Homo sapiens: one gene and its partner. The protein of the gene in region 2 purifies or fractionates together with the protein of the main gene of each other region. This does not show direct contact. Each region holds a gene or a part of one and is shown on either strand. Other genes may lie near its edges.

Region 1 (3,500 bases), on a different chromosome or scaffold from region 2:
AAAAAAAGTAATGAATTACAGTGTTCACGCCTGTAATCCCAACACTTTGTGACACTGAGGAGGGAGGATCACTTGAGGCCAGGGGTTTAAGACCAGCCTGGGCAACATAGTGAAACCCCATCTCTACAAAAAATACAACCAAACAAAACTAGCCAGGCATTGTGGTAGCTCATGCCTGTAGTTGCAGCTACTCAGGAGGCTGAGACGGGAAGATGGCTTGAACCCAGCAGTTTGAGTTACAGTAAGCTGTGATGGCATCACTGCACTCCATTCTGGGTGACAGAGTTGAGACCCTGTCTCTTTTAGTTTTTGTTTGTTTGTTTTGAGATGGAGTCTTGCTCTGTCACCCAGGCTGGAGTGCAATGCCACAATCTTGGCTCACTGCGACCTCTCCCTCCCGGGTTCAAGTGATTCTCCTGCCTCAGCCTCCTGAGTAGCTGGGATTACAGGCACCCGCCACCATGCCTGGCTAATTTTTGCATTTTTAGTAGAGACGGGGTTTCACCATGTTGGCCAGGCTGGTCTTGAACTCCTGACCTCAGGTGATCCACCTGCCTCGGCCTCCCAAAGTGCTGGGATTACTGGTGTGAGTCACCACGCTTGGCCTCCTGTCTCTTAAAAAAAAAAAAAAATTGAATCATTTCAGGAAAAGATTACAAAGGAAAGAAAAAGGAACATAGGACAGGTGGAACAAGTAAAAGCTAGACAGTAAAGTGGTAGACGTAAGCCCAGCTATATCAGTAATTACACTAAATGTAAATGGACAAAATGCTCTAGTTAGACAGATTTCCTGACTGGATCCACACAAACAAAAACAGAAGAATCACACCCATCTCTCCTTGGTGTCCCCACCCCCAGCCTCAGGTTTGGTGGTGGTGGTGGTGGTGGTGGTGTTGTTGTTTAAGTATTTTTTAGTTTTGTGTGTGTGTGTGTGTGTATTTTTAGTAGAGATGGTGTTTCACCATGTTGTCCAGGCTGATCTCGAACTCCTGACCTCAAGTGATCCAGCCACTTCAGCCTCCCAAAGTGCTGGGTGTACAGGCATAAGCCACCACGCCAGCTAGTTTTCTTAACTCTAAAATAAGACAGTGGGTTTCTCAATGGTTTCTTAGTCAGGGTGGTGCCACCCCCTGCTCTGGGGGGCATTTGTCAATGTGTAGGTAGGGCCAGTTCTGGTGGTACAGGGATGGGGGTGGCACTGCTGGCTTCCAGGGATGGGGCTGGCTATGTCGGTGGTCCTGTACCATAGAGAGCTGCCCAGAATGTCAGTGTGAGGGAAACACTGGGCCAGTGGCCTCTTCAGGCCGCAGTCTTTCCAGCATGCATTTGATGTAGTCACTTCCTTGTGCATGTCCAGAACTCTGAGCCAGGGAACCCACTTCTTTCCACCTGACCATTGAGGAGCCGCCTTATAGTCCCATTTTGCAGATTTGGGAACTGAGGCCCAGGAGGGGCAGAGTGGCTTGTACATAAGCCTATGCCACTGGGAAATGGCAGAGGCGGGACCCCTCCCCCGCCGGCCCACGTTCACTGCACATGGCCCCCAGGGCTTCACTCCGCATGATTCTCTCCCCGACAGAGCGTCACGGGGTTCGGACGTCAGATGATCGAGAAAACCAAGCAGCTGGTGGAGTCTAAGTACACAGTGGAGAATGGCTACAGCACCAGTGCCAAGGTCGGGGGCTGCCCACCGCTGCCCTGAGATGGGCCCAGGGCAGGTGGGGGGATGGAAGCCGGGCCGGACCCCCATGTCCCCGTGCCTCCTGGTCACACCCTGCCCACTCTCCTGTTGCATCCTTGGGTCCCGTTGGCATTAGCCACCTGCCACCCCCCGACACCAGTAGTTGACAGAAGGGACCCTGCTTCTCACATACACACATCCCCACCGCCCGCAGGTGGTGTATGGTGACACTGACTCCGTCATGTGCCGATTCGGCGTGTCCTCGGTGGCTGAGGCGATGGCCCTGGGGCGGGAGGCCGCGGACTGGGTGTCAGGTCACTTCCCGTCGCCCATCCGGCTGGAGTTTGAGAAGGTGCGTGGCTGGGTCAGGGGCTCTGCATTTAGGTGCCCTCATCAGGGTACTCAGGGTGTCCCGTTCTTTGGGTTCACAAAAGCCACAGTGTGAAGGGATGTTGCTGCTTAGATTCTCCTGAGGCTGGGGCCTTGGTTTGGGAAGCCTCCAAGGCCTTGGGCTTTGTTACCCTGGATGGCATCTGTTCTTTGAAAACCCTGTCGCTGTCCCTGGTTTTGAGGTGTCACAGTGTCCCTGGTTTTGAGGTTTCCCAGTACCTGTCAGATGTGGAGCTGCCCTCCACGCAGGGACCCTGATGGGGGTGCACCTTAGATCTGTGCACCATTGCCCCTGGCCCTCTGAGTGCGGCACACTTGGTCCCAGGAAACCTTGCACCATATTTTCTTTTGAAGAGTCTGGGTCTCGCTCTGTCGCCCAGGCTGGAGTGCAGTGGCGAGTTCACAGCTCACTGCAGCCTCCAACTCCTGGGCTCCGGCGATCCTCCCGCCTTGGCCTCCTGAGCCGCCACGCCCAGTTCTCACACTGTACTGTTTCCCCGTGGCTTAACGCTCTCTCGTGCCAGGCCTTGGACTTGGAGCCTCGCAGAGTGGGGAGGTCTCTGCCTCAGGGCTCACCCAGCCGTAGTTTCTCCTCTCTTTCATGGGATGCTTCATCGACTCGCCTGTCTGGATCTCATGTTTTAGGGACTATCTGGATTTATCCCAGTCTCTGTTTCAGATTGGGGTCTCTGGTGTGGGGGCTCTGGCATTGCCGAGGGGCCTCAGGAGCCACTTCCAGCCATACAGTGTCTCGGTCCATCCCACCAGGCTCAGGGCACGGCTCCCATGTCCTCAAACTGCGTCTGGGACCCTGTCTACCTTCAGTTTCTGGGGGGCGTCTCCAGATTGGGGCTTGGCCTCCTCAGGCTCAGGGTCTTGGCCATGGCTCCCTCCCAGGTCTACTTCCCATACCTGCTTATCAGCAAGAAGCGCTACGCGGGCCTGCTCTTCTCCTCCCGGCCCGACGCCCACGACCGCATGGACTGCAAGGGCCTGGAGGCCGTGCGCAGGGACAACTGCCCCCTCGTGGCCAACCTGGTCACTGCCTCACTGCGCCGCCTGCTCATCGACCGGTGTGTGGGGCCTCCTCCCTCAGACTCAGGGGGCTGGGCCCCAAACCCCTCCTCCCTCAGACCCAGGAGTCTAGGCCCCAGCCCCTCCTCCCTCAGACCCACGGGTCCAGGCCCCCAGCCCCCTCCTCCTCAGATCCCGGGGTCAGGGCCCCCAGCCCCTTCCTCTCTTAGATACAAGAGTCCAGACCCCCAGCCCCTCCTCCTCTGGGAACACAGGTGTCAGGCCCAGCTCTTCCTCGGTGGTGAAGCAGTGGAAAGAGTCGGCTTGGGCAGCTGTGGGTTCAGGCCCTGCCTCTGCCACTCTGCAGCCTATGGTAGGAAGGGCCCCTCTCTGCCCTGAGCCTCAGCCCTAAGAG
Region 2 (3,500 bases):
GTGACACCTGGCCCCGGAGGCGACCGACGTCTTGTCAGGAGGCTGGCAGGTGGGTGAACGTGCTTCTCTTTGCCCCAAGGTGCTGGCCGACGGCACTGTCCTGGACTGCCTGACCTCCCTGAGGAAGGACAACACGGGCTATGACCTGAAGCAGCTGTTCATCGGGTCGGAGGGCACTTTGGGGATCATCACCACGGTGTCCATCTTGTGTCCACCCAAGCCCAGGGCTGTGAACGTGGCTTTCCTCGGTGGGCTTCCTCGATGTGTGCCTTGAGATGGGTGGTTGGGCTCGAGCGTCTGCTCTGATGGTGCCACTGTTGGTGTGAGGAAGGGGATGGAGGGACCCCCCGCCAAGGACAGTCGGTTCCCGTGTCTCCTGACATCTCTGCTTCCAAAGGAATCAGGAATCCAGGACCTGGCCTTCCTGGTGGTCATGGGTAAAGGTGTAGAGTGAGGCCTCTCTCTGTCTCTGGTCAGAGGACACTTCATTTCATAAGAAAACAGGCTTGTGTTGCCTCATTCACCCCATCGTGTTGGTTGAGTAGCTTGTGGAGTAAGGTTGAGGGACATGCTGTCATTTGGCATCAGTTCAGGACACCACTCTTAGTTACTGTGGGGATAAAGAATTCCCTCCTGTAATGGGGGGCTTCCCCAGTCAGCCCAGACTGGGGGTCTCAGCAGACCTGCCTGCTGCTGTGTCTCCACAGGCCTGCTTCACTCACAGCCACTTCTTCGGTTCTCCTGGGACCTGCCTGCGGCTCCTTTCTTGCTTCATTTGAATCGGGCGGGTTTATCCAGCATTTCCTCCTCAGGAGTTCAGAAGTCGCACAGCCCGGCAGTCTTCGCGCGGGAGGTGGCGGGTCTAGCTCACCAACTCCCAGTTCGGTGTCTTGAGCTGCCAGAAGCTTGGGCAGCCCTGGAGGATGCTGAGACTCCGCATGCTTGTTCCTTCAGCCACTTACATCTTCTTGTTGTGATGTGTGTTCCGTATTTTAAGCAATCTCACCAGGATTATTATTTTATGGCCACTTTCTCTGCCCTCCACTCTCTTGTGTCCGATCTTCTGTCTGGGATTATGTTGCAAACATATCCTCGTTCATTTCCTGCAGTAAAGGTCTCCTGGTGACCACTTCTTCACTTCTGGCGTGTCTGAAAATACCTTTATTTCATCCTCATTCTTGAAGGCTCTTTTCCACAGGCGCATGGCTTCAGGCTGTTGTTTGTTTTCTTTTATCCCGGTGGAAACGCTGACCCGCTGTCCTCTGGCCTCCTCGCTGTTGGGAACTTTGCTGTCGGTAGCTGCTGCTGTGAAGGGATTCTGCCTCTCTCCTGGCCCCCCTTGGGCCACTTAAAGATCATTCTTTCTGATCTTCTAAAGTTTTCAGTGTGTGGTGTGTGTGTGTACGTTCTTTTTCATCTCCTTGGAATTACTGAATTTCTTAAACCTGTGGCTTGGTATCTTTTACCAGTTCTAGAAATTCTTAGCCATTATTGCTTCAGATATTGTCTGTGTTTTCCTCTCCTTTTGGGACTGTGATTCAGGATAGAATGTCTCAGTCCGTCTTCTGTGTCTCTTAATCTCCCCTCCATATTGTCATCATCGTGTCTCTCTGTGCTGCATTCTGTGTGATTTCTTCTCATCTGTCTTCCAGTTCACGAATGCCCTCTTCTGCTGTGTTTTATTTGCTGCTGAACCCCTCCATGAGTGGTTCCCTCCGTCCATTGAGTTTTACATTTTGATTATGAAAGTTTTTATTTCTAAAAGTTTTGTTATTTTTGTCAAATCTGCAATGTTACTTTTTATAGTTTTCTATTCTAGGTATTCTCAAGCTCACCATTTGTGTCTTTAAACATAGTTTGACGTCTATAATCCCAGCACTTTGGGAGGCCAAGGCGGGTGGGTCATTTGAGGTCAGGAGTTTGAGACCAGTCTGGCCAACATGATGAAACCCTGTCTCTACTAAAAGTACAAAAATTAGGCTGGGCACAGTAGTTCACACCTGTAATCCCAGCACTTTGGGAGGCTGAGGCAGGTGGATCACGAGGTCAGGAGTTTGAGACCAGCCTGGTCAACAAGGTGAAACCCCATCTCTACTAAAAATACAAAAATTAGCCGGGCATGGTGGTGGACGCCTGTAATCCCAGCTACTTGGGAGGCTGAGGCAGGAGAATTGCTTCAGACCATAAGGCAGAGGTTACAGTGGGCTGAGATCATGCCACTGCACTCCAGCCTGGGTGACAGAGCAAGACTCCATCTCAAAAAAAAAAAAAAAAACTTTGAATAATTTTTTGTGATGTTTTATAATCAGGCAATTCCATTTTTTCAAGTCTGTGTAGTCTGTGAAAGTTTTTTTTAGAGACAAGGTCTCACTCTGTTGCCCAAGCTGAAGTGCAGTGGTGTGATCATAGCCCCTGGGTTCAAGCCATCCTCTTGAGTAGCTGGGATTACAGGTGCACACCACCATGCCTAGGTAATTAAAAAAAATTTTGTATGTAGAAACAGGGTCTCATGTAACTCCTGGGCTAAACGATCCTCCCACTGTGGCCTCCTAAAGTGCGGGGGTTATAGGTGTGAGCCTGAGCCGCTGCACCCAGCCTGTGTGGTCTGTTTTTAGTGTCTGTTGTTTCTGCTGGTTCATGCTCCTGGCTCCTTAGTTTCTTGTGTGCTTGGCTGTCTGTGGCAGTGTGCAGCTCATTATGTTTGAAGAATTATTTGTAGGGGTTCCTAGATGCCAAAGACGAGGTACCTTCCTCCAGAGAGGGTTTGCTTTTGCTTTTGCTTTTGCTAGGTGTCTTTGGGTCTGTTCAGCCTGAGAGTGACCAAGTTCACAGGATGAAATTCTGTGAAACTCCCAGGTAGCAAGTCAGTGTAGGGCTGTGTCGGGCTGATCCATGGTCATGATTTATCAGGAGAGTGTTTTTTTTTTTTTTTACATTATTCTTCTGTATTTTTTTGAGAGACAAGGTCTCACTCTGTCATCCAGGCTGGAGTGCAGTGGTGCAATCGTGGCTCACTGCAGCCTTGAACTCCTGCACTGAAGGGATCCTCCTGCCTCCCTAGTAGCTGGGACCAGGTGTGTACCACCATACCTGGCTACATTTTTAAAATTGTTTTATAGAGACAGGGTCTCCCATGATGCCCAGGCTGGTCTTGAACTCCTGAGCTCAAACAATTCTCCTGCCTTGGCCTCCCAAAGTGCTGGGGCTACAGGCATGAGCACCTGCGTCGGGCTCCATTCTGCTTTTTTCTCATTCTGTTCAGCCATTTCCCCTGCAGTCTTCGGGGCAAGTTGGTTGGGACAGGCTTGCTTCTGGCCCTGACTTCTAAGATGTGGCCCTGTGGGGGTCTCCTGGATTCCTCACTCTGGGTAGGCTGGGAAGCTTGAGGCCAAACCTGCTAGCGGGGCAAGGGCTGTCGGCCAACAGCGTTGACTTGGTGCTACTCAGCCCCCAGGTCAGGCTCTTCCCTCGCTCTTGATGCTCTTCAGCGTTTTTTTGTT

Evidence for each region. Proteins that work in one complex are often made in the same cells at the same time.
Region 1: the proteins of D2HGDH (region 2) and POLD1 purify together in Homo sapiens (affinity purification with mass spectrometry; one large-scale study listed by BioGRID and IntAct). This does not show direct contact.

What each region holds. Positions count from the first base shown.
Region 1 is NC_000019.10:50,411,847-50,415,346, forward strand, and holds part of POLD1 (DNA polymerase delta catalytic subunit), read left to right. Parts: intron 1-1,579; coding exon 1,580-1,675; intron 1,676-1,895; coding exon 1,896-2,033; intron 2,034-2,968; coding exon 2,969-3,144; intron 3,145-3,500. UniProt on the Homo sapiens protein: As the catalytic component of the trimeric (Pol-delta3 complex) and tetrameric DNA polymerase delta complexes (Pol-delta4 complex), plays a crucial role in high fidelity genome replication, including in lagging strand synthesis, and repair.
Region 2 is NC_000002.12:241,744,630-241,748,129, forward strand, and holds part of D2HGDH (D-2-hydroxyglutarate dehydrogenase, mitochondrial isoform 1 precursor), read left to right. Parts: intron 1-79; coding exon 80-248; intron 249-707; coding exon of another isoform or gene 708-1,126; exon of another isoform or gene 1,127-2,420; intron 2,421-3,500.